Homo sapiens: one gene and its partners. The protein of the gene in region 1 interacts with the protein of each later gene in a pairwise test. Each region holds a gene or a part of one and is shown on either strand. Other genes may lie near its edges. The genes, in order: N4BP3, RFC5 and CTDSP2.

The links.
Region 2: the proteins of N4BP3 (region 1) and RFC5 interact in binary tests that used the Homo sapiens proteins (3 or more experiments, as listed by UniProt).
Region 3: the proteins of N4BP3 (region 1) and CTDSP2 interact in binary tests that used the Homo sapiens proteins (3 or more experiments, as listed by UniProt).

The regions. Positions count from the first base shown.
Region 1 is NC_000005.10:178,109,095-178,116,544, reverse strand, and holds the start of N4BP3 (NEDD4-binding protein 3), read right to left. Parts: upstream 3,014-7,450; 5' UTR 2,774-3,013; intron 1,780-2,773; exon of another isoform or gene 1-1,779.
Region 2 is NC_000012.12:118,019,673-118,026,773, reverse strand, and holds part of RFC5 (replication factor C subunit 5), read right to left. Parts: coding exon 7,006-7,101; intron 5,869-7,005; coding exon 5,789-5,868; intron 4,489-5,788; coding exon 4,415-4,488; intron 1,924-4,414; coding exon 1,764-1,923; exon of another isoform or gene 1,760-1,763; intron 1,028-1,759; coding exon 946-1,027; intron 1-945. UniProt on the Homo sapiens protein: Subunit of the replication factor C (RFC) complex which acts during elongation of primed DNA templates by DNA polymerases delta and epsilon, and is necessary for ATP-dependent loading of proliferating cell nuclear antigen (PCNA) onto primed DNA.
Region 3 is NC_000012.12:57,843,684-57,851,345, forward strand, and holds the start of CTDSP2 (carboxy-terminal domain RNA polymerase II polypeptide A small phosphatase 2), read right to left. Parts: upstream 3,047-7,662; 5' UTR 2,753-3,046; coding exon 2,689-2,752; intron 79-2,688; exon of another isoform or gene 1-78. UniProt on the Homo sapiens protein: Preferentially catalyzes the dephosphorylation of 'Ser-5' within the tandem 7 residue repeats in the C-terminal domain (CTD) of the largest RNA polymerase II subunit POLR2A.

The DNA of each region.
Region 1 (7,450 bases):
CAGGACACACTGACAAAGCAGGAGCAGCCCAGTGGCATGATGACCTAGTGTCCTTCCCAGCCCCCAGGCTAGTGAAGGAGCAGCAGACAGCCCCTTCCCTTTGTCTCTCCTTAGGCCCCCCACCGTCCCCACTGTGCCCCTCCTGGCTGACTGACTGGATTATCAGCTCCCCCAGCAGGGCGGGGGCCCCCAGCTTTCAGGACACTCCTCCCTGCGTATGTCACAGAGTGGGGACAGTCTCTTTTCCTAAAGGGGTCCATCCTACCTCCACCCCCTCCCCCAACACATACATTCCTTCCTTCCTGTTGCTTGGAAGCCCAGGGATTGCCTGCTCCGGGCAGGGCAGCTGGGCAGGGCAGCTGTGCAGGCGGAGGGGATTTGGTGGGGGAGGAGGGAGGGAGGACAGCAAGTGCCTTGCAGCCTCACTGGAACATCAGAGCAAAAAGCCGGGGACCCTGCACGGGTCGTGGAGAGAAGGGTAGGGGACAAGCCAAGTGCCTGGGCTTCCCTGAGCTGGGAGCGGCAAACCCCCAGCCACACAGCTGGCTAGATTTGGGCTGGGACATTCAAGCCACATTCTCCACAGGTCCTGGCTAGCCCCAGTAAGGCCTCTTCACTCCTGCTCCCCGCCACCAGTCCCCTCACCCCTCTCCAGTCCCCAAGATTAGCAGGCAGCACTGGAATCTCTGAACACGGAGAGGAATTGCTTTCGGACCAATCCTTGGTGGAGATGGAAGACACAGCTGCCCTGGCCAGGAAGCAAAGAAGGAGAGGACGCGCTTTCTTTGAGGGGGGCGTCCCAGAGCCTGTTGGTGCCCTTTTGGGTCACGCCAAAGGGCACTATCACATCCTCACAAGACACACAGGAGATGAGTTCTGTCATCCCCCACTTCACAAGAGGAAACTGAGGTTCAGAAAGTGAAGTAACACGCCTAAGGTCACGTTCAGCCGCAGGGGAGAAAGCACACAGGCTCCAGGATTAGAAGTCCTCTCGGATCCCACCTTGCATCTCCTCTGGGGTGGGACATTCCAGTCCCCACATGGGCAGGAGTGCTGCCTGCCCTGGCTACAGTCAGCCCCTCCTGAGCCCTGGCCCCAGGGAAAGGTCCCACCACCTGCTGGGGGATCAGCTCTGCTAAGGGGCGTGTCTGCAGCTGCCCCTAAGGAATGGGACTGGAATGTCCCAGCTCCAAAAGGGGGGGGTAGTAGGCAAGGGGGGCCCAGAGAGGGGCTGGGAGAGGCTGGCCCACCCCATCCCCTCTGTGACAGACACTTGAGGCAGAGACAGGGGCTAAAGCCTGCGGAAGTGGTGCTTAGTATCACCATATAGTGCTTCACGGCTGCACCGCAGTCTACAGTTTTTTCTCAGCCCTTCTATTTCATTATCTCATTTCATCTCCACAATAGCCTCGTGGGGGCAAACAGGACAGTAATTACCCTCACGCCATTTTACAGATCGGGAAACTGAGGCCTCGGAAGGCGAGGTGAGTTATCCAAGATCCCACAGTGAGAAGCAATCTCAACTCCCTGGGCAAGGTCCTTTCTACCTCAGCAGGTTGTCCTAAGCCAGGGGTCACGGGTTCCCCTCCATGGGCACACACTGCTGTGTATGTATTGCATATATGTCTGCCCAGCCCTCCATGCCTGTTTCTCCCAAGGACACTTGCAACCAGGCTGCCCTAGACTGCGGTCCACCAGGCCTGGAATCCCTCCTGCTGCCCCCCAGGTCAGGAAGAAATAGAGGAAACCTGCCTCATGGGGACTCCGAGTCGCTATGCTAGCTCTAGAGGCGGTGGCAGAGGCAGGCTGGCCGCATTCATTCACAGTCTGGCACATGCACACCACACGCTGCCAGCCGGTAGAGAAGCCCTGCCTGGGAGGGCCCTGGGAGGAGGCTGATAACCGCGCCCAGGATGGCCTCCTGCGTCCGCTCCCTCCCGAGGACAGCCAGGCCCAATCTGTTCCTATGTGGTTGGGGTCGGGGGGTGGCCCAGTGGGAGGCAACGGGTCTCAGTTCTCTTTCTGGATACAGCCAGGGCCCTGATTTCGGCTTGTCCCCAGGCCAGCCCTCACTTGGGCCAAAGGCTGTGGCCGGGACTGGACCGGGTGCTCTGGCGGTCAAGACCTAGGAATGTCCCCTACCCGCAGACCCGCAGCTGCAGCCTGGTGGACCGGCAGGGGGTTGGGGGATAAAGGAGGTGTGGGAGGAAGCGAGAGATCTCATGGGGAAGTCAGAGGGGCAAACGAGGTTGCATCCCCACGGAATTTGTGTCAGGAAAGCAGGGGTGAAGGCGAGGGTTCCCCAAAGCTGCGGGAGGTCCCGGAGCTACCTGGGGGGCGGGGTGGGAGGCGCGTCTCCTCCTGGCCCCTCCCTGAGGCCTGCCGGGAGCGGCTGGGCCGGGGGGCGGAGGCCGAGGTCAGACGCCGGCGCCAAGGACGCCTGCCCCACCCAGCCGTGGCGCAGGGGTCCCGCGCGCTGCTCCCTGGAAAGCGCGTTTGCAGGGGTTGGGGAGAGCAAGGTAGCCTGCCGCCTGCCCCTCCAGCGGAGCATCGGGGTCGGTCCCCGATCCGGTGCCTCGGTGACCGGGAGCAGGGGACACCTGGGCGCACGCCGCACCTTGCCACCCCCGCCCATCTCTCAGACGGGAGCCTCGGCCAGCGGGACAGCAGCTTTGCCAAGGACGCCCGAAAACAAGACCTTGGCGACCCGCCCCACCCCTCCCCACCCCCCGAGTCCAGCCCGGGTCCCCAGCCCCTCGCGCGCCCCACTTACCATGGTGGCGACGCGCTCGCCGGCCCGCGGCTCCGCAGCCCTTGCGCGTCGCAGCTCCCCCGCGCGGATTTGAACCCTCCTGCAAGGCGTCGGCTCGGGCCGGGACTGCGTGCCGGGTCGGAGCGGCGGAGCGGCAGGCGCCGGGAAAACGCGGGCGGGCGCCGGCGCCGGAGCCGGATTGGCGAGGGAGGGACGCGCTCCGCGGCGCTCGATCGCCTGCCCCAAAGGCGGAGGGAAAACCCGGCCTGACTCACCGGCGCGCGGCAAGCCCACAGCCCGGCCCCGGCCCCCGGATGTGGGGGGCGGGGCCGCCTACCCGCGAGCCAACCTGGGCCCCGCCCGGCCCCGACCGCGCCCCCGGCCCTGACCCGCAGAGGCGCCGCACGGCGGTGGCGGGCGAAACCTGGACCGGCTGCGCCTCGCGTCGCTGCCTCCTTGAGCGCCCCGGCTCGTTCCCGAGGGGTGGGCAGCCCCGAGCGCGGCCCACGCCCCAGAGAGCGCACAGCGCCCCCGCTTCTCCTCCTCCGCCGTTCGCCTCGCCCGCCTCCTCTAAGGAAGAGGCGCGTGAGGTCCCTCACCTCCCTAATTGTAGCCGCCTCCTCTCCGGAAAACCTGATTTCCCCCCTTTGGGGATGAACCACAGTAGTACTTTGAGAAGTGAAAAGATTTTACCCCACGACTCTGGCTGAATTGGGCACAGAGTTATTTTCTTTTTGCCTCCAAAGTATTCTAGGGGCAGCAAAATCAGGTGCCTTCAGGGGCCAGAAAAATTACGCAAATGAGTCGTGAGCTTCCTACTAAGACAGTAGGAAGACATGGAAACAGACACAGACACGTAAAGGAGTCATATTCGAAAAATTAAAACACCGTTTCTAATTCAAAAGTTAAGCATAGAGTTACCATATGATCCGGCAATTATAGTCCTCAAACAAGTAATGTTCTTGGCAGTACTAGTCACAATAGTCAAAGAGCCAAAAGGTGGAAACAGCCCAAACTAACAATTGATGAGGGTGTAAGCAAACAATGGTAGATCCATTCAGTGGAATATTATTCAGCCATAAAAAAGAAATGAACGCCATGTGATGACTCATGTCTGAACTCTCCCAGCACTTTTGGAGGCCAGGAGTTCAGGAACAGCCTGGGCAACTCACAAAACTCCATCTCTATCTTAAAAAAAAAAAGACCTGATGTGGTGGCTCACCCCTGTAATCCTAGCATTTTGGGAGGCCGAGGCAGGCGGCTCACTTGAGGTCAGGAGTTTGAGACCAGCCTGGCCAACATGGCGAAATTCTATCTCTACCAAAAACACCAAACATTAGCCAGGCATGGTGGAGCGAGCCTGTAATCCCAGCTACTCGGGAGGCTAAGGTAGGAGAATTGCTTGAACCCAGGAGGCAGAGTTGCAATGAACGGAGATTGTGCCACTACACTCCAGCCTGGATGATGGCGTAAGCCTGTCTCAAAAAAAAAAAGAAAGAAAAGAAAAGAAAAAGAGGAATGAAACACTGATGATACCTGCTACAACATGGATAAACCTCCAAAACATGGCAAGTGAAAGAAACCAGACACAAAGCCCACATGTGTTAATGATGCCATTTATAATAAGTAAATCCAGACAAACAGAAAGCAGATTAGAGCCAGAGGCTGTGGGGAGAGAGAAAGGCAGAGTGATTGCCTAACAAGCATAGGGTTTCCTTCTGGGATGAGGAAAATGTTTTGGAGCCTGACAGAGGTGGTGGTTGCACAACGTTATGAATATACAAATGTCATTGAATTGTTTGCTTTAAAACGGCTAATTTTATGGTATGCACATTTTACCTCAATTAAAAAACATCTTGTCACTTGTGGAACAGATTTGGTCTACGGCCCACAAATTTGCAACCCCTTGTGTTCTATGCTGTTCTTACCAATTCTTGCTAGGACAGCATAGAACCTCTAGGAAGAACTTCTGGCCAGGCATGGCGGCTCACGCCTGTAATCCCAGCACTTTGGGAAGACGAGGTGGGCAAATCAATTAAGGCAAATGATTTGCCTGCCTCAGCCTCTCAGTGTGCTGGGAGTACAGGCGTGAGCCACCATGCCTGGCTGAAAGAACTTTTTTTTTGAGATGGAGTCTTGCTCTGTCGCCCAGGCTGGAGTGCAGTGGTGCGATCTCAGCTCGCTGCAAGCTCCGCTTCCCGGGTTCACGCCATTCTCCTGCCTCAGCATCCCAAATAGCTGGGACTACGGGTGCCCACCACCACACTCGGCTAATTTTTTGTATTTTTAGTGGAGATGGGGTTTCACCATGTTAGCCAGGATGATCTCGATCCCCTGACCTCGTGATCCACCCCCCCTTGGCCTCCCAAAGTGCTAGGATTACAGGCATAAGCCACTGCGCCCGGCAACTTTTTTTTTTTTTTGAGATGGAGTTTCACCCTTGTTGCCTAGGCTGAAGTGCAATGGCGTGATCTCAGCTCACTGCAACCTCCCCCTCCCAGGTTCAAGCGAGTCTTCTGTCTCAGCCTCCCGAGTAGCTGGTTGGCACAGGTGTGTGCCACCATGCCCGGCTAATTTTGTATTTTTAGTAGAGACGGGGTTGGTCAGGCTGGTCTTGAACTCCCGACCTCAGGTGATCCACCTGCCTCGGCCTCCCAAAGTGCTGGGATTACAGGCGTGAGCCACCACGCCCGGCCAGAATTTCTAATAGAACTGCCAGACTTCAGAATACTTGTCTAAGAAAACTCATTAATAGCTGCTGTGGGTCTCAGCCCTTGAGGAGCCAGTCTGGTAGGGTTACTCACTGGGACAGATAAAGTTTCAGAGCAAGAACCTGTTTGGCTGTTTGGGGGACCCAAGGAAAGGCCTCACTGGAGCAATGGTTTTTGAGATGGTCCTGGAAGCATTTCCACTGAGGAGTGTTCCCAGCAGAGCAGATAGCAGGGCTAGAGAAGGCAGGGCACGTTCAGCTTGCTAGCAAGGTCCAAGCCCTGGGTGGGAAAGGTTAGTGGTGGGAAGGGACGAAGGTGGCAACCGAGAGCAGACCCAGAGAAGCCTCTTGAAGTGGGCGCTGGGAGCCTCCGAAGCATTGAGAGAGAGGAGCTTGTGCACGCAGCTGGACGTGGGGCCTGTGAGGTGGCACAGGCAGGCAGGGAGGTCGGGTCCCCTGGGTCTCTAGGGAAAGAAATGGGGCCAAGGAGGACCTGGAAGCTGGAAGCTGCCGAGAAGGTGTTCATTCTGTCAACTGAGTGGGAGAGACAGTGATAGAGATGTTTATGAGAGGGTTTGAATGAAGGTTCTTATAAGAATCCACTTGCAAGAAATGGCATGAGGAAGAGAGAGAGAGGTCACAGCTAAGTTCTGATGAAAACTCAGATTCTGGGTTGGGTGCAGTGGCTCACGCCTGTAATGCCAACGCATTAGGAGGCCGAGGTGAGAGCATTGCTTAAGCCCAGGAGTTCCCTGGGCGACATAGCAAGACCCCATCTCTATAAAAAAATAAAAAATTAGCCAAGCCAGTGGTGCCTATAGTCCCAGCTACTCGAGAGGCTGAGGCAAAAGGATCCCTTGAGCCTAGGAATCAGAGGCTGCAGTGAGCTATGATCGAACACTGCACTCCAGCCTAGGTGACAGAGCAAGACCCTGTCTTTAAAAAAAAAAAGGCCGGGCACGGTGGCTCACACCTGTGATCCCAGCACTTTGGGAGGCCGAGGCAGGAGGATCACGAGGTCAGGAGATCGAGACCATCCTGGCTAACACGGTGAAACCCTATCTTTATTAAAAATACAAAAAATTAGCAGAGTGTGGTCGTGGGCGCCTGTAGTCCCAGCTACGCGGGAGGCTGAGGCAGGAGAATGGCATGAACCCAGGAGGTGGAGCTTGCAGTGAGCCGAGATGGTGCCACTGCACTCCAGACTGGGCGACAGAGCGAGACTCCGTCTCAAAAATAAATAAATAAATAAATAAATAAAGGCAGGACACAGTGGCTCATGCCTGTAATCCCAGCACTTTGGGAGGCCAAGGCAGGTGGATCACCTGAGATCAAGAGTTCGAGAACCAGCCTGGCCAACATGGTGAAAATCTGTCTGTACTAAAAATACAAAAATTAGGCAGATGTGATGGCGCACTCCCATAGTTCCAACTACTCAGGAGGCTGAGGCAGGAGAATCACTTGAACCTGGGAGGTGGAGGTTGCAGTGTCCCAAGATTGCACCACGGCACTCCAGCAGCCTGGCTGACAGAGCGAGACTCCATCTCAAAAAAAAAAAAAAAGAAAAAGAAGGTGCTCAACTGCACTGCGCTCCTGTCCTGTCCATGCGGGCTGCCTCTTGTTCTCACCCCGTCTCCTTGACCTTGGCCTCCCATTGGCCTTGCTGAGGCCTTTGAGAGAAGAAAGTGGGCTGGGCAGAGGTGAGGAGGCAGAAACCAACAGGAGGCCAGGCCTCTTTTCTTCCCTCCAACATCTGCCTGGACAGTATGGGAGAGGCCAAGCTGGACTCCTGCTGGGATGGGGGGATCTTGTATTCAGTGAACTTTATTTACCTTCCTGGACCTGCACAGCAGATGCCCCTGCAAGGGGCCACTTGCCCCCAGACATGACATTCCTGTAGAGTTGGCATGGGAGCCACACTGCTCAGATGCCAAGGGGTGGGGCACTCAGGGCACCAGGCCAGGGGAAGTGAAACCAGCCTCCCTGGA
Region 2 (7,101 bases), on another chromosome or scaffold:
ATGGGCACAAGGCAGTGGGAACCCACATATTCAATACCGGAAGAGTCACCTCATCAGAGGATGCCACAGCCTGTTGGCTATTCCAGTGCCAAATCCTTCCCTCCCTTTGCCTTCTTTGCAACAAATGATTCCTTTTGTTTTTAAAACATTTTCTTTTGCTCTCTCTTTGTTTTTTGAGACAGGGTCTTGCTCTGTTGCTCAGGCTGAAGTGCAGTGGCATGATCATGGCTCACTGTAGCCTCGACCTCCTAGGCTCAAGTCACCCTCCTGCCTCAGCCTCCTGAGTAGATGGGACTACAGGTGTGCACCGCCACACCTGGCTCATGATTTTTTAGTGGAGACAGAGTCTCACTATGTTGCCCAGGCTGGTCTCCAGCTCGTGGGCTCAGGCAATCCACCTCCCTCGGCATCCCTAAGTGCTGGGATTACAGGCGTGAGCCACCATACCTGGCCTGCAACAAGTGATTTTTTCAATTAATCAAAATACAAAGTGAGGAGGGGGAATCCTGCAGGTTATGAGACCAAGGTCTTACCAGCTGTAGATTTCAAAATTTACAGATTGATCATGCCTTTGCTTAGGTCTTTCTTCAAAAACTATTACAAAACAATGACTCAGGATTTGCTGGGACCAGGCTGGGCATGGTGGCTCATGCCTGTAATCCCAGCACTTTAGGAAGCTGAGGCAGATGGATCATTTGAGGTCAGGAGTTCGAGACCAGCCTAACCAACATGGCGAAACCCCATCTCTACTAAAAATACAAAAATTAGTAGGGCGTGGTGGCGGGCACCTGTAATCCCAGCTGCTCAGGAGGCAGGAGATTCGCTTGAACCCAGGAGGCGGAGGTTGCAGTGAGCTGAGATTGTGTTGCTGCACTCCAGCCTGAGCGACAGAGCAAGACTCTGTCTCAAAAAAAAAAAAAAAAAAGGATTTGCTTGAGACCATACCTGCAAAATGTTCAGAGCCCTACGCATGTCTCCACTGGAAAGAGTGACTAGTGCTTTCATTCCATCTTCACTTATATCAACTCTGAAAGAAATAAGCAAAAGGGATTTATGAGGCCCCCTGAGAGCACCAGCATTCACCAAAGGAACAAGATGGCCTGGAATGATTAAGGCTTTAAAGGGATGAAGGAAGGAGAGGAACAGAGTTAATAATCTCCTGATCTATATGATCTAGAATTCACTCTGGTTTTTAGGGACCTGGGCTTCACATTAGTAGTCACAGCCAACCAAAATCGAGAACAGCCTGAATTTAGGAACAAGCATTCTCCCATGGAGCCAGTCGTCTTGAATTCTGCTCTCTGGGGAGGACAGAGGCCTGGCACAAGCCATGATCACACAGCCGAAACTCCTCCTTCACAACAAGCAGCTGCTCAGGTCGGCTACTTGCTTGGCATCTGACTACACAGAATGTGATGTCTTAGAACCTTCCCTTCTAGTCTAAAAAGGCTGGAAGCATCTTTGCAGAAGGGACTCAGCAGCCTGCAGTTTCCAATGACAAAGAAGAGTAGGAGGAAATTGGGACAGCTTCCAGGGGAGGAGGATGGAATCAAGAAAAATGAAGTACCAAATGACTTTTATGAGGAATGGCCTTGAGACAGCAGAGAAAATGATAGCAGTGGACGGTCCCCAGTGCCTCCCCTGTGCTAGGCACTCTGCAAAGTCGTTTTCCAACATTCCTCTCCTCTACATACGAACCAGCCAGTGATCCCACAAGCCTGTTTCTACTACACTCCATCCCCAAAGGCCCGCAAAATACTCACTTCTCTTCTTCCACGACATGTTCCAGGCGGGGAACCATGAGTTCAGGAGTCAGGGGACCGAACCGAAACCTCGTGCAGCGGGACTGCAAGGCAGGGATGATCTTTGACAGATAGTTACAGATGAGGCAGAATCTGGTATTTTCTGTGAATTTCTCAATTACTAGTAAGAGAAAATAAAACCACCTCATGTCAAAGTCCATTCTGATTTTTCAGAGAGCCCAGAAAACTTGAATTTTTCTGTGGTCACAAGGGTATAGGAAAAGATTCAATACTGCAAACAAGTGAGGATGTTGGCCGGGCGTAGTGGCTTAGTGGCTCACGTCTGTAATCCCAGCACTTTGGGAGGCTGAGGCGGGAGGATCACTTGAGGTCAGGAGGTTTGGCCAACATGGCAAAACCTCTACTGAAAATACAAAATTTAGCCAGGTGTGGTGGCACATGCCTGTAATCCCAGCTACTTGGGAGGCTGAGGCAGGAGAATTGCTTGAATCCGGGAGGTGGAGGTTGCAGTGACCCAAAATCATTCCACTGCACTCCAGCGTGGGCAACAGAGTGAGACTCTGTCTCAAAAAAGAAAGAATGTAAACAAGTGAGGCTGCAGCCTATGACAAGACAGGGCAGTGCTGGCCTGTTCAGATCAGAGATTAGCCACTCCTCTTTTTTCTTTTTTGAAACAGAGTCTCGCTCTGTTGCCCAGGCTGGAGTGCAATGGCACGATCTTGGCTCCCTGCAACCTCTGCCTCCCGGATTAAAGCGATTCTCCTGCCTCAGCCTCCTGAGTAGCTGGGACTACAGACACGTGCCACCACGCCCGGCTAATTTTTTATATTTTTAGTAGAGACGGGGTTTCACCATGTTAGCCAGGATGGTCTCGATCTCCTGACCTCATGATTCGCCCGCCTTGGCCTTTGGGATTACAGGCATGAGCCACTGTGCCAGGCCAATTTTTGTATTTTTAGTAGAGATGGGGTTTCATCGGTTAGCCAGGCTGGTCTCGAACTCCTGACCTCAGGTGATATGCCTGCCTCAGCCTCCCAAAGTACTGGGATTACAGGTGTGAGCCACTGCGCCCTGCCTAGCCACCCCTCTTTCACAAACTGGTAAACATGCCTCCGTGGGATTTTACAAAATGCTTCCTTTTTACCATTTGCCATGATTCTGGCACTTTTGCCATGTAATCCCATTAAGACTATGAGACTTCTTGTCCTTTTACATAAAATTATATTTGGCAGGTTGATGACACTTCACCTTCTATGGGCAGGGAGGGCGGCTTTTTGCAGACTTTTCCATGGAGACTGTCTGGAGGCCTTAGAGCACTCAAGGGAGCAATAACCCGAACAAAGAGTTGCTTATGACACCGGTTCCATTCTGTAGGTACCCAATGTTCTCACATGGGGATCTGCCCAGAATGACAGTCACTCGGCAGAACAAGATGCCGAAGAAAGGCTGCCAAGCTTCTAGGACCAGAAGATATTCTCGCTGTCCTCCTCCTCCTCCTCCTCCCCCACCTCTCCTCCTCCACCTCCCCCTACCCTCCTCCTCCGCCTTCTCCTCCCCCTCCTCCTCCTCACCCCCTCCTCTTCCTCCCCTCCTCCCCCCTCCTCCTCCTCCCCCTTCCCCCATCCTTCTCTTAACATGTGCTGCCATCTACTCCCTCGCCACAAACTCCTAAAGATCGTTCTTCTCTCAAAGCTGATTCACTTGGAATCTTAATGAGAGATGACAAGTGTCCTTTAAGAGAAAAGAACTGCGCTAGGCCCCTGAAGACAGACAAATCGCAGGGTGCTGTCCCTCCCGCTGCCAAATCATTCACTTGGCAAGCAGTGAAGTAATATCAGCTCTCTGAGCACCTCAACTTCAGATATGCTTTTCCTAGCCATTGTGGTTCAAAGGGTACCATTAGTAGAAAGGAGAGGGTACTATTAGCAGAAGGACTATCTGATAGCTTAAGGATGAAAGATTTTCCACACCCCATCCCACGGAAAGATATGAATTCCCAACTCTGAAATTGAACCCAGTGTCAAAGGAGGTTGAACACCAGTGACTGGCCAGACTTAAAAGTCCCCGCAGGGCTTAGTCCCTAGGCTGCTGAAGGGGAAGTCCCGCTACAGAGGTATCTAGCCTGTGTCATTAGATGGGAGACACAGAGAAAGGCATAGAGATTTCTCTGGGCCAGAAGATGAAAACTGAAAACAAGCCAAGCCATATCTCACATCCTAATTCTCCTGTAATCCCAGCACTTTGGGAAGCTTAAAGTTCCTAATTCTCCTGTAATCCCAGCACTTTGGGAAGCCGAGGCGGGCGGATCACCCAAGGTCAGGAGGTCGAGACCAGCCTGGCCAACATGGTGAAACCCCATCTCTACTAAAAATATAAAAATCAGCCGGGTGTGGTGGTGCATGCCTGTAATCCCAGCTACTCAAGAGGCTGAGGTCAGAGAATCGCTTGAACCCAGGAGGCAGAGGCTGCAGTGAGCCAAGATTGCGCCACTGCACTCCAACCTGGGTGACAGAGCAAGACTCTGACTCAAAAAAAGAAAAAAAAACTCCCCCCCGCCTAAAAAAACAATGACAACAGCAACAAACACAAAGTTCCTAATTCTCCTTCCAGTGTGCACACCAGCCCAAACGCTCCACAGTGCCTCTGCTTACCTCTTCTCAAGGCATTCTGGGCGTCCTGAGTCATGGCGTCTGCTTCATCCAAGATCACTAGCTTAAAGCCTTTCCTAGAAAAACAAATGGTGCTGTCTAAAGATTTCTTCAATCTCATCTCAACATCTGGGCTCAAACCTATATCTTCCCATTGTGCCATCGGGCCCTGTCTCAGAAAGACAATTTCTTCTAGAACTTTGGCCAAGGCAGACATCTTTGGTCACTCAGAGAGGAAATGCCGCATCACTCCTTCAACCCTTGGTGGGAATGGAGGAGACTTCTCTACTTCTGTGCGCTGTGTCCTCTGGCATCTTCACTTTCCTCCACATGGCACCCTACCATGCTACTGCTTTTCCCGTCTCCCTCACTCATGCCTGAGTCCCTCACCCTTTTGCTTTTTTTGAGACTAAGTTTTTGCTCTGTTGCCCAGGCTGGAGTGCAGTGCCGCGATCTTGGCTCGCTGCAACCTCTGCCTCCTGGGTTCAAGCGATTCTCCTGCCTCAGCCTCCTGAGTGGCTGGGATTACAGGCGCCCACCACCATGCCCAGATAATTTTTGTATTTTTAGTAGAGACGAGGTTTCACTATGTTGGCCATGCTGGTCTTGAACCCTTGATCTCAGGTGATCCACCTGCCTAGGCCTCCCAAAGTCCTAGGATTACAGGTGTGAGCCACTGCGCCCGGCCCTCACCCTTTTTCTTTCTTTCTTTTTTTTTTTTTAGCCACCATCCTAGTTGTCCTTCCTGATCTCAATTTATTTTTAAATTCAAACTAGCTCATCCAGTCTTAGGGTAATCTAGCCAGTTCTCAGGAACTAAAAATGAAGTTAATGCTCCCTAAAGAACTTGGTAATGCAGGCTGGGCTCACGTATGTAATCCCAGCAGTTTGGGAGGCTGCGGCGGGCAGATTGCTTGAGCTCAGGAGTTCGAGACCAGCCTAGGCAACATGGCAAAACCCCATGTCTACTAAAAAATACAAAAATTAGTTGGGCGTGATGGCTCACGACTGTAGTCCCAGCTACTTAGGAGGCTGAGGCTGGAAGATCGCTTGAACCCAGGAGGTGGAGGTTGCAGTGAGCCGAGATCATGCTACTGCACTCCAGCCTGTACGATACAGGGCGACCCTGTCTCCAAAAAAAAAAGAAAAAAAAAACAAACTTGCTAATACAAGCGTAGATAACATTTTATTTTAACAGTTGCATTATAACGCTTCTTACTACCATCCCTCTCGTTTATCTCTTTTCCATGGTTGCTTTGGACAAAGTCACTTTTTTTTTCAACCCATATAAACTGGCTAAGGAGAGGATTAAAAAATTAACCCATATCATCTTACTAATCAAAATCAAGGGAGCGAAATTACACAAATAATTCTTACTTAAATATTGTCCTTGTGCTAGCAAAGCTCAGGATCGGTCCTCGAATGATGTCTATTCCTCGGTCATCTGAAGCATTCAGCTAAATGTGGAAGACAGAAGACAAAACAAAAACCATGTTGCTGTGCTATCTGTGAGTTCTTGGTGTTAGTGTATTTCCTCATCAGTCCAGCTCAGCAGGCTAGCTCTCTATGTCTAATGATGGCTAAGAGATCATCATAAAATAAAAAATCAGTTTTACACAAAATTCACTAAATTAATAAAGATGGCTATATTACCCCCACCCTTTGAGGACAATGACTGACATAAATTGGAGAAATAATTAATTGGTATGGTTACACTGAACAGCACCTCTGGTATGAGCAGAATGATACAAATTTCAGCTACCACAATCCTAAGTTACCAAGTTCTTAATAAACTGAAATAAGGACATTAGTAGCAGCAAAGTTCTGAGACCTGCGTCTAAAAAGTAAGTTAAACTTTTCTTGCAATAGACAATACTCAGATTTTTGAATCTAAGTATATTAGTCAAGGTCCCAGCAATATACAGATGGCATACTCAAATGCAGCAATTTGAAGAGAATTAAACAAGATCTTTTTAAAGGTGTGATATAGGAAAACCATGGGGCTATGCAATACCTGTCACCCTTGAGCCTGAAGGGCTTAGTGAAGGGAGTGGCTGTAGGCACCTGGAGAGGGCTGCAGGAAAGGTACCACCTGTGAGATGTACCCTACAGGTGGGCCATGCTGCCAGCCTGTGTCAGCCCCCAGGGAAGGCCCAGGCATCACTCACTTCCTTCCCCCACCCCTGCCAAGGCCCCTATTGGCCAAACCCAACCAGGAGCCAGAGGGTAAGTGAGCTTATAGTCAGTAGGGCTCAGCCTTCCAGGCAGGAATATGGTGGAGAAACGTGGAGAATTGATCTAGAGGGGCCATGGCAGACAGGCAGCAACCAAGTCACCATAAAGTAAGGTTTGGGGAGAAGTTGGCAAGAGCAAAGAAAAAGGTGCCAAACCCTACAACTGCCCTCTAGCTGACCAACGCTAATCCAGACCAAAATGACCATTATAGGAAAAAGGGAATTAAAATATTCAAATTTACTTCTTTCCTAACTGTCCGTGGGGCAACTTACTTTTAAAGTAAAATAAAACCAGCAGAACTGAAATTAAGAGACTGGAGTCTCTTAAGTTATTTGTAGAGTAAGAACAATCTTATTTACCTCCAAGACCATGGAGCCAAATTCTTTGTCTTTATATAGCTGTTTCGCACAGGCTAGGATGGTAGATGTCTTGCCTGTCCCTGGGGGACCGTAGAG
Region 3 (7,662 bases), on another chromosome or scaffold:
GGGATGTTGTGGAGAGGACGGAGTGGGGAGAAGAAGGAACTCCAAAAGGAGCCAATTAAAACATCTGCTTCCCCAGTCCCCCAGCTTTTGTTTTTTGTTTTGTTTTGAAGACGTAGGTTTTGTTTGTAAATGATGTGGGACTCAGAAAGTTGGTTTAGTGGTTGCTGGGTGCCTAAGCAGCCCAGGAAGAAAGTCTGTCTTCTCTGGAATGCAATCAAATTACATGGGGAGGGGCCGGGCGCGGTGGCTCACGCCTGTAATCCCAGCACTTTGGGAGGCCGAAGGGGGCTGATCACCTCAGGAGTCGAGACCAGCCTGGGCAACTGGCGAAACCCCTGTCTCTACTAAAAAATACAAAAAAATTAGCCAAGCGTGATGGCGCGCGCCTGTAATCCCAGCTACTTGGGAGGCTGAGGCAGGAGAATTGCTTGAATTTAGGAGGCGGAGGTTGCAGTGAGCTGAGATTGCGCCACTGCACTCTAGCCTGGGCAACAGAGTAAGACTCCATCTCAATTAAAATAAAAAATTACATGGGGAGGGAGAGACCCAGTGGCTGCTGGCTTAAACCACACACACAAAAAAGGAGAAACATTAACTCCAAGAAAATCCAACACCAGCAACTTAACACTGTCAAGCCAGTTGCTTTGCTTTCTGCTGTTATCTATTCTGTAGCCTGCCATTCACCCTGGTGGATGAAACTTCCAGCTCTGATTTCTAAGATGCCCCGGCGCAGTCCAGCTTTCCCTTACTCCTCGCGTGGCCCCACGATGCCCAAGGCACACTCCCTGCAAGAGAGTCCCTGCAAGAGAGGAAGACCTAGTGGGGAAGCACAGGGCTCCTCCCCCTACTCATCACCACTGCCCCCTCTTGAATCCCCCCACATCTAGGTTTCTTCCCCTCTGGCTAGCTCTTAGGGTCTTTTCCTGGGATAAAAAGGGAGTGGGAAGAGTCAGGAGTGAGCTATAAACACACGCAGGCTCCCTTCCTTTTTCAGCCATCAGCACAGTTGAGCAGCCAGCAGAGGCGGTGAAGTTGCTGCCTGGGTCACAGCCTGGTTAGTGATGCAGCCAGGAGAGCAGAAATCATGGCAACACCGAGGTCAGGGAGGCCGGAGCCTTCTCGGGGGTTGGGATCTGAGTAGGCAAGGCCATCCCTTCTCAGGGCAGGCTTATTTAAAGTCCGGCCAGTGATGCAAGAGGAACACACTGCCTCCCTCCCCCCACCCTTCCCCCCTCCCAGCTCCTCTCGTTCCACTGAGGGAATTTGGGAGAGGCTGACACCACCAACTCAGCGGATTTGCCCCTAGGGAAGTTGGGGGAGCTCCTTGGAACGTGAACCCCAGGAATTAGTGACCTGCTGACTAATGTTGCCAAACGGGGAGACGTGGGGCGCACGAGGCCCCGAAGCTGGCCGCCCACCAGGCTCTAGGCCTCAGTGTGTTCAACTGCAGCACCGGCCCTTCGCGCTCGGTGGAGAAGGGGAGGGAGCGCTCCGGCTTCGGCCCCAGGAGCCAGCTCCCGCCCCAGCCTCCGGGGCCAGGTGGCCCCGGTCGGGGGGCTCTCTAGAGAAACGCCACACTCGTCCTTACACCCCGCGGAAAATCTGCCGCTATTTTGGACACATTCCTCAAGGCCAAAAGAAGAACGTGGCGGAGGGGGAAAGAGTTTCGAGTCTCCCACTGTGACCAAACTAAGAGGTTCCACCCTCGGGCCCCAGCTTTCTCCCGCCCCGGGAGAGGCCTCGGCCTCCGCCTCACCCCCGCGAGGGCCTGCGGGCCCCCTCGCGCCTCCACCTGACGCTCTGGAAGGCGGGGGCCGCCAGCCGCTGCCCACAGAGAACTCGCACTTTTTCGCTGCGCGATTCAGAACCACGCCGGGTCTGATGCCATCCGGCGAATTATGTAACCAGGGACACCGCTCCCGGGCTAAACAAACGCGGCTCTGTGTGTGCAGCGCCGGCCCCGGGGGAGCGCACCGGGCAGGGAGGGGCTCTGGCCGGGCCTCAGGGTCGGGCTTGTTTGCTCAGCGAAACTGGTCAGAGGCAGCCGGGAGGGAGCCCGACGCCGCCAAGGTCCCGGGGCCTGCGCTGAGCCGGGAACCCGCCACGTCTGGTGCGCCAGGGCCCGGGCCCCTCCCCCACCGCGACCGCCCCCGCCTCCAAGAGGTGAACTTGGTCCCAAGTCCCGCCGGACGCCGTCACCGCCAGCTAGCTGCCCGAACGACCTCGGGCTTGGGGGGGCCTGCAAGTGCTGGACTCCAGTCTCGGTTCCGTTCCACCTGGGGCTCCCTCTGTCACCTTCCTAACCCCTCCCCGCGATCCCGGGGCAGCCGCGCGCGGCGGTGAAGGAAAGTGACGACCCCACCCCCAACTCCGGAGGCGGTGGACGCGGAGTGGCCCAGTGCTTCGAGAGCTACCCCTCCGTCTCTCAGCCCCGAGGGGGAGGGGTTGCGGGACAGGGTGACAGCTGCGCCGAAGACGCCCTTTCCGCTCGGGCGCCGGGATCCCCGTGCAACCCCCACGGAGGTCTGAGTGCCAGCCGGGATGCGGGGGCGGATGGACCGGAGGGGTCCAGTCGGGATCGCTGGCTCTAAGCCCTGGAGGTCAAGGGCCGAGACCTGGGTTCGGGGCTGTGCTAGCCCCCTCCGCGCCCGGGGGCGACGCAAAGTTTTGGGAAGTTGCTGCCCCTACCTTGCTTGGTGAGCACCAGGGCGTCTTCCCTCCGCGCCTGGGTGATGATGGAGCCGTGTTCCATCTAACAATCCCGCGGGCCCGGGCTGGCTGGGCGGGAGGACGGGCGGGCGCGCGGGCTGGGCTGGGCTGGGGGGCCTGGGCGGGGGCCCGCTCCGGCTCCCGAGACTCCGACTTCCACAGCTGTTCACATCCCCCCTCTCGTTTCCTCCCCGGACCGGGAAGGGAGGCGGCCTGTACAAAGGGCGGGCGGCCCGGGCAGCGGCTCCCCCGGGTGCCCCCGGCCCCGATCCCCCAGCGGCAGCTCCGGGCTCCTCAGTTTGGGTCCAACATGGAGAATCCGGAGCGAAAACAAGAGGAGGAAATGGGACACGGGGCGGTTTCCAGGCTCCCCCCTCCCCTCCGTACTCCAGATAAACAACCCGCGGCTGCAGCGCCCACCCCCGCGCGCCTCCCGGCTCTCGACTCGGCCTCTTCACGGCCAGCTGGAGCTTCCCGCTGGGGGCTGCGTCCTAGGCCCTGGGACCCTCCATCTGTGAGCGGCCGGGGCTGCGGACAGTCGGGAGCTTTGCTATTTTGTTACGGAAAAAGCGAATCCTCAAGGGGGGTGGGGTGGCGGGCGGGCAGGCTGGCGGGGGAGACTTGAAACCGTTCCGGTGCTCCGATTGGCTCTCTTGGAGAAAAGGGGCGTGGCCCCTCCTTACTATGCGGTGAGAGGACCTAACAACATTCCAGGCGCCACGGCCACGCCCCCGGGCCACTCCCCCCGCGCCAGACTGCGGCCTCCCAGTCTCCTCGGCCACACCCCCTTCCCAACTATTTAAAAGGCCGCTCCGAAGCTCACGTTCTGGTGCTCTGTGCTGGGGTGTTCTTTTCTCGGAGGGCGCACTCGGGGAAGGTGGAAAGGTTTCCCCCTTCAGGGGTGACCAAGACAAGCCGCTAAGCCTAACCTGACTCCAGCAGGGGATGGGGCGGATCGGAAGTTACCTTACCCCCCTGCTTAGCCCTAGAATCAAGGACGTACCAAGTCACATAAAAGTACAACCGTCGAGGCCAGGCGCGGTGGCTCACGCCTGTAATCCCAGCACTTTGGAAGGCCGAGGTGGGTGGATCACGAGGTCAGGAGTTCAAGACCAGCCTGGCCAAGATGGTGAAACCCCGTCTCTACTAAAAATACAAAAAAATTAGCCGGGCGTGGTGGCGGGCGCCTGTAATCCCAGCTACTCGGGAGGCTGAGGCAAAGACTTGCTTGAACCCGGGAGGCGGAGATTGCAGGTAGCCGAGATCGCGCCACTGCACTCCAGCCTGGGCGACAGAGCGAGACTCTGTCTCAAAAAAAAAAAAAAAAAAGTACAACCTTCGAATCCCGAAAGGGGTGTGTGCGTGTGGGCGGACCTAGGACTCCAGAGTATAAGAGCTGGAACTGACCTCGGGACTGTGTCCCCCAAAACACTGAAAATGAGACCTGAGGTGCTGGGCTTTCCTCACACCCACCGACTTACTCCCATTTAGGCGGCCCCGACTCCGCCCCTCCTCCCTACCTCCCTCATCCTACCCCTCTCTTTTTGCCCCCACAGTCCCAGCTTCCTTTAGATGGATGGAGGTCTCTCGGAGGAGCTTCAGCTTTGTGGACTCAGGCTGCCTTCCCCACTTGCTCTTTAGGCCTCGGGGCACGCTCCGCTGGCTACAGCTCCTGGAGTCTCTGCTCAAGGTTGTGGGTGCTTTTGTTCCCCAGCGGTGGTAGCTCCAGAAAGGCTGGTTTCAGCTCAATATCAGGTCTTTTCCAGTGATCTACATCTGTCCACAGGTGACATGGGCTGCCTTGGGACAATGGTAGCTGTTCAAGTCAAGGCCGGCAAGAGTGGTGTAGAGTGAGATTGCACTGGGTGACTTCTGAGCTAAATCCAACCCCAATATTCTGTGATTCAGTGGCACTCACCCTGCCAAGGAAGGGGCTTCCTTCCTGCTGCAGTTCCCATTGCCCAACATGCATCAGGTCTTACTGATGATTAGAGGACAACTAGGTCACAGCTAAGCTTGCCAGGTACTATCAGACACCTGCTTCCTATGGTCCCTTCCTCATGAGGACAGGTGAGGTCATGATCTGCATATGCCTGTGTGCCATACAGTGATCATGTGTGCCTGTTTCTGCTGTTCCTACGCACGTATACAAAACCTTTTTATATAACATCATTTTAATGGAAATGCTGTTTTTCCAAAATGAAAGTGGCTGTTACAGATCTGAATGATGCTTATGTAACTTTAAACACTGAATTTGGGTAGATCTTAATTCATTAACAGAAAGGGAAACGGAGGAGTTCTGACATACCCACCTCCCATCATTAAAACAATAGGATCTTTAAGGTAAATCTTCAATAGTCAGGTTGCTATGGGGGCCTTTTTAGACCCTTCCCCTGCCCTCTTCTAAGGTAGATTAGTTGCAGTGGGAGGAATGCAGGCAGGAGCTGAGGACTGAGGATTTAGAGGGGCCTGCTACCCATAGCACTGTAGGGCAGGACACTTCACTTCGTTATGCTTCCATTTCCTCATCCATAGAGACAATACCTCCCCTTTTGTAATTTACAAAGTACTTTCACATATATTATCTATTTCATTTGATCTCTCACTTCTTTGAGGTTGATAGAGCAGATATTATGCCCATTTTTATAGATGCCTGTTTTGTAAATGAGGAATTGGTCTGGGAAGGTTAATTGACTCACCTGAGACCTCACAGCTTGTTAAGAAGAGGAGACAGGATGTCTTTGGACTTTAAGACTAGAACCCTTGACACTTTAACATAGTTCCCTTCTTATCTATAGGATGGAGGAGACACTAGAACCTATCGCTCTCTTTTCCTGCTGTGAACTCCAATTGCATCACCTCTCCTGGAAGCCCTCCCAGATGCCCGCCCTCATGTCAGGGTTTTATAGCCTCATACATACTCTCTCAGACCACTTGGCACCCTATCTTGCAACTGTGTGCTTATTGGCTTCCCAACCAGAAGGTGGATTGAGACTAGGGGATGTCTTATTCTTTACTGGATTTCTTGTGCCTAGCAGAGTGCCTAACACAGAACAGGTGACTTGTACATGTTGAGATGAAGTCTCACTCTGTTGCCCCAGCTGGAGTGAAGTGGCGTGATCTTGGCTCACTGCAACCTCCGCCTCCCCGGTTCAAGCAATTCTCCTGCCTCAGCCTCTTGAGTAGCTGGGATTACAGGCACCTGCCACCATGCCCAGCTAATTTTTCTATTTTTAGTAGAGATGGGGTTTCACCATGTTGGCCAGGCTGGTCTCAAACTCCTGACCTCAGGTGATCCACCTGCCTCTTGGCCTCCCAAAGTGCTAGGATTACCAGTGTGAGCCACCATGCCTGGCCTTGACTTTATGTCTGAACCAGTGTTCTTTTGTCCAGGGATTTGTTCAGTGACCTACAGCAAGAAACACATTTTATGTTGTGAGATAAATGATACAAAAGTTTCATGGACAATACTTACCCTGGCTATGTGTGCACACTCATATTTTCTATTGCACGTATTGTGTTCTATTTGATGGTTTTAAGGTGCCAGCCATGACCTTTTAAATTGAATTCACAAACCACCACCGGATTGTGACCCAGTGTTAAAACAATGCTACTTTCACTCCTGGATGCAGTAGATGCCTTCATGTGTGTCTCAGGGCTCTGGCTGTCCCTGAAAGATGCAGAGGAGATGGTCCTCAAGCATTTCTTGCTCTGAGGTCAAAGAAAAATTTATGTATAACAGATAGAACCCCTTCCAAGGCCAGAGGCACAAGGGTACAAATAGAACCCAGCAAGGAGGGGTAAATGAGGGAGGAGGGGCAGTTCCCAAGAGGCCTGGTGAGGACCCCTGTGCTTCCAGAGACTACAAAAGCAGTGGAGGCGCTACTGGAGCCTGGAACCCCAAACATAGGTGGGGCTTGCTCTCTTGATGCCACAGGCTTCTCACTGCTCTGTCCACAGATGACTAGGAAAAGGTCTGCACTCTGGAAAGCTCTGTAGGGTCATGGTGGGCCTCTTTCCTATAGTTGAAGTGGTGAGGGTGGTGGGAGGCAAGTGGACCTTCTAACTTCTGCCTAAAATAGCCTCAAAAATAACATCCTGCCTACGGGGCCTGGGCCAGTTGCTGGTTGTGTAACTTTAGGTGGTTCATTTTAGGTGGTTCAAGGGAGATAGCTGAAGCCAGGTCTAACAACTCTCCCAGGAGAAAGCCCACTGACTCTCACTTGGTTCCCTACCTGCTGTATCCCCTTTCCTCTGGCCTCTCTGACTGCATGGTTGGTAAGAGGCAATTTGGAAACAACAGCAGTGTCCCCATTACCCCCAAATGCTAGAATGGGGGGCTATGTGGGGCAAACATGGAGTGGCTGTCCCTGTCTGTCTCCTGCTGTGGCTACTGAAGTCGGACTGGGTGTCCCGAGCCAAGGCTGGCGAAAGGGAAACAGCTGGAGGAGCTTCCTCCATGGGAGATGCCTAATTGCCCTTTTCCCCACAGAAAATAAGTACAAGGTTGGGCTACCGACCTTTCATGATTATCTCTGATGTCACTGAAATATTACTTTTTTTCTTAAAAACTTTTTTTTTAAAAAAAGGAACACATTGATTTTCTTGGTTTTTCTGATTGTCCCTGCAGTCTCAGTTCTGCTTTGTATTGTTCATGAGTAGGTGGATGTCAATGCCAAGATTCCAGAGCTTGGTGCCCTCCTGTCACAAGGCTTGTATGGTATGGTCCTGTCCTGGCTTCCCAGGGCAGAGTATCGGGGCTGAGATGGGGTGGGGTGAGGGAGAGAGACCCAGTGGCTAATGACTGAACTGCTGTGAGGGTGCCAGATGCTGAGGGCTGCAGAGGGAGGGAGGAGCTAGTGGTAGCGGGGATAGCTCCTCTGTGCAACAGCGTGGGAAACCTCACTGCCTGCAAGGTGCAGGCATGCTCATCACTCCAACACCACCGCTTAA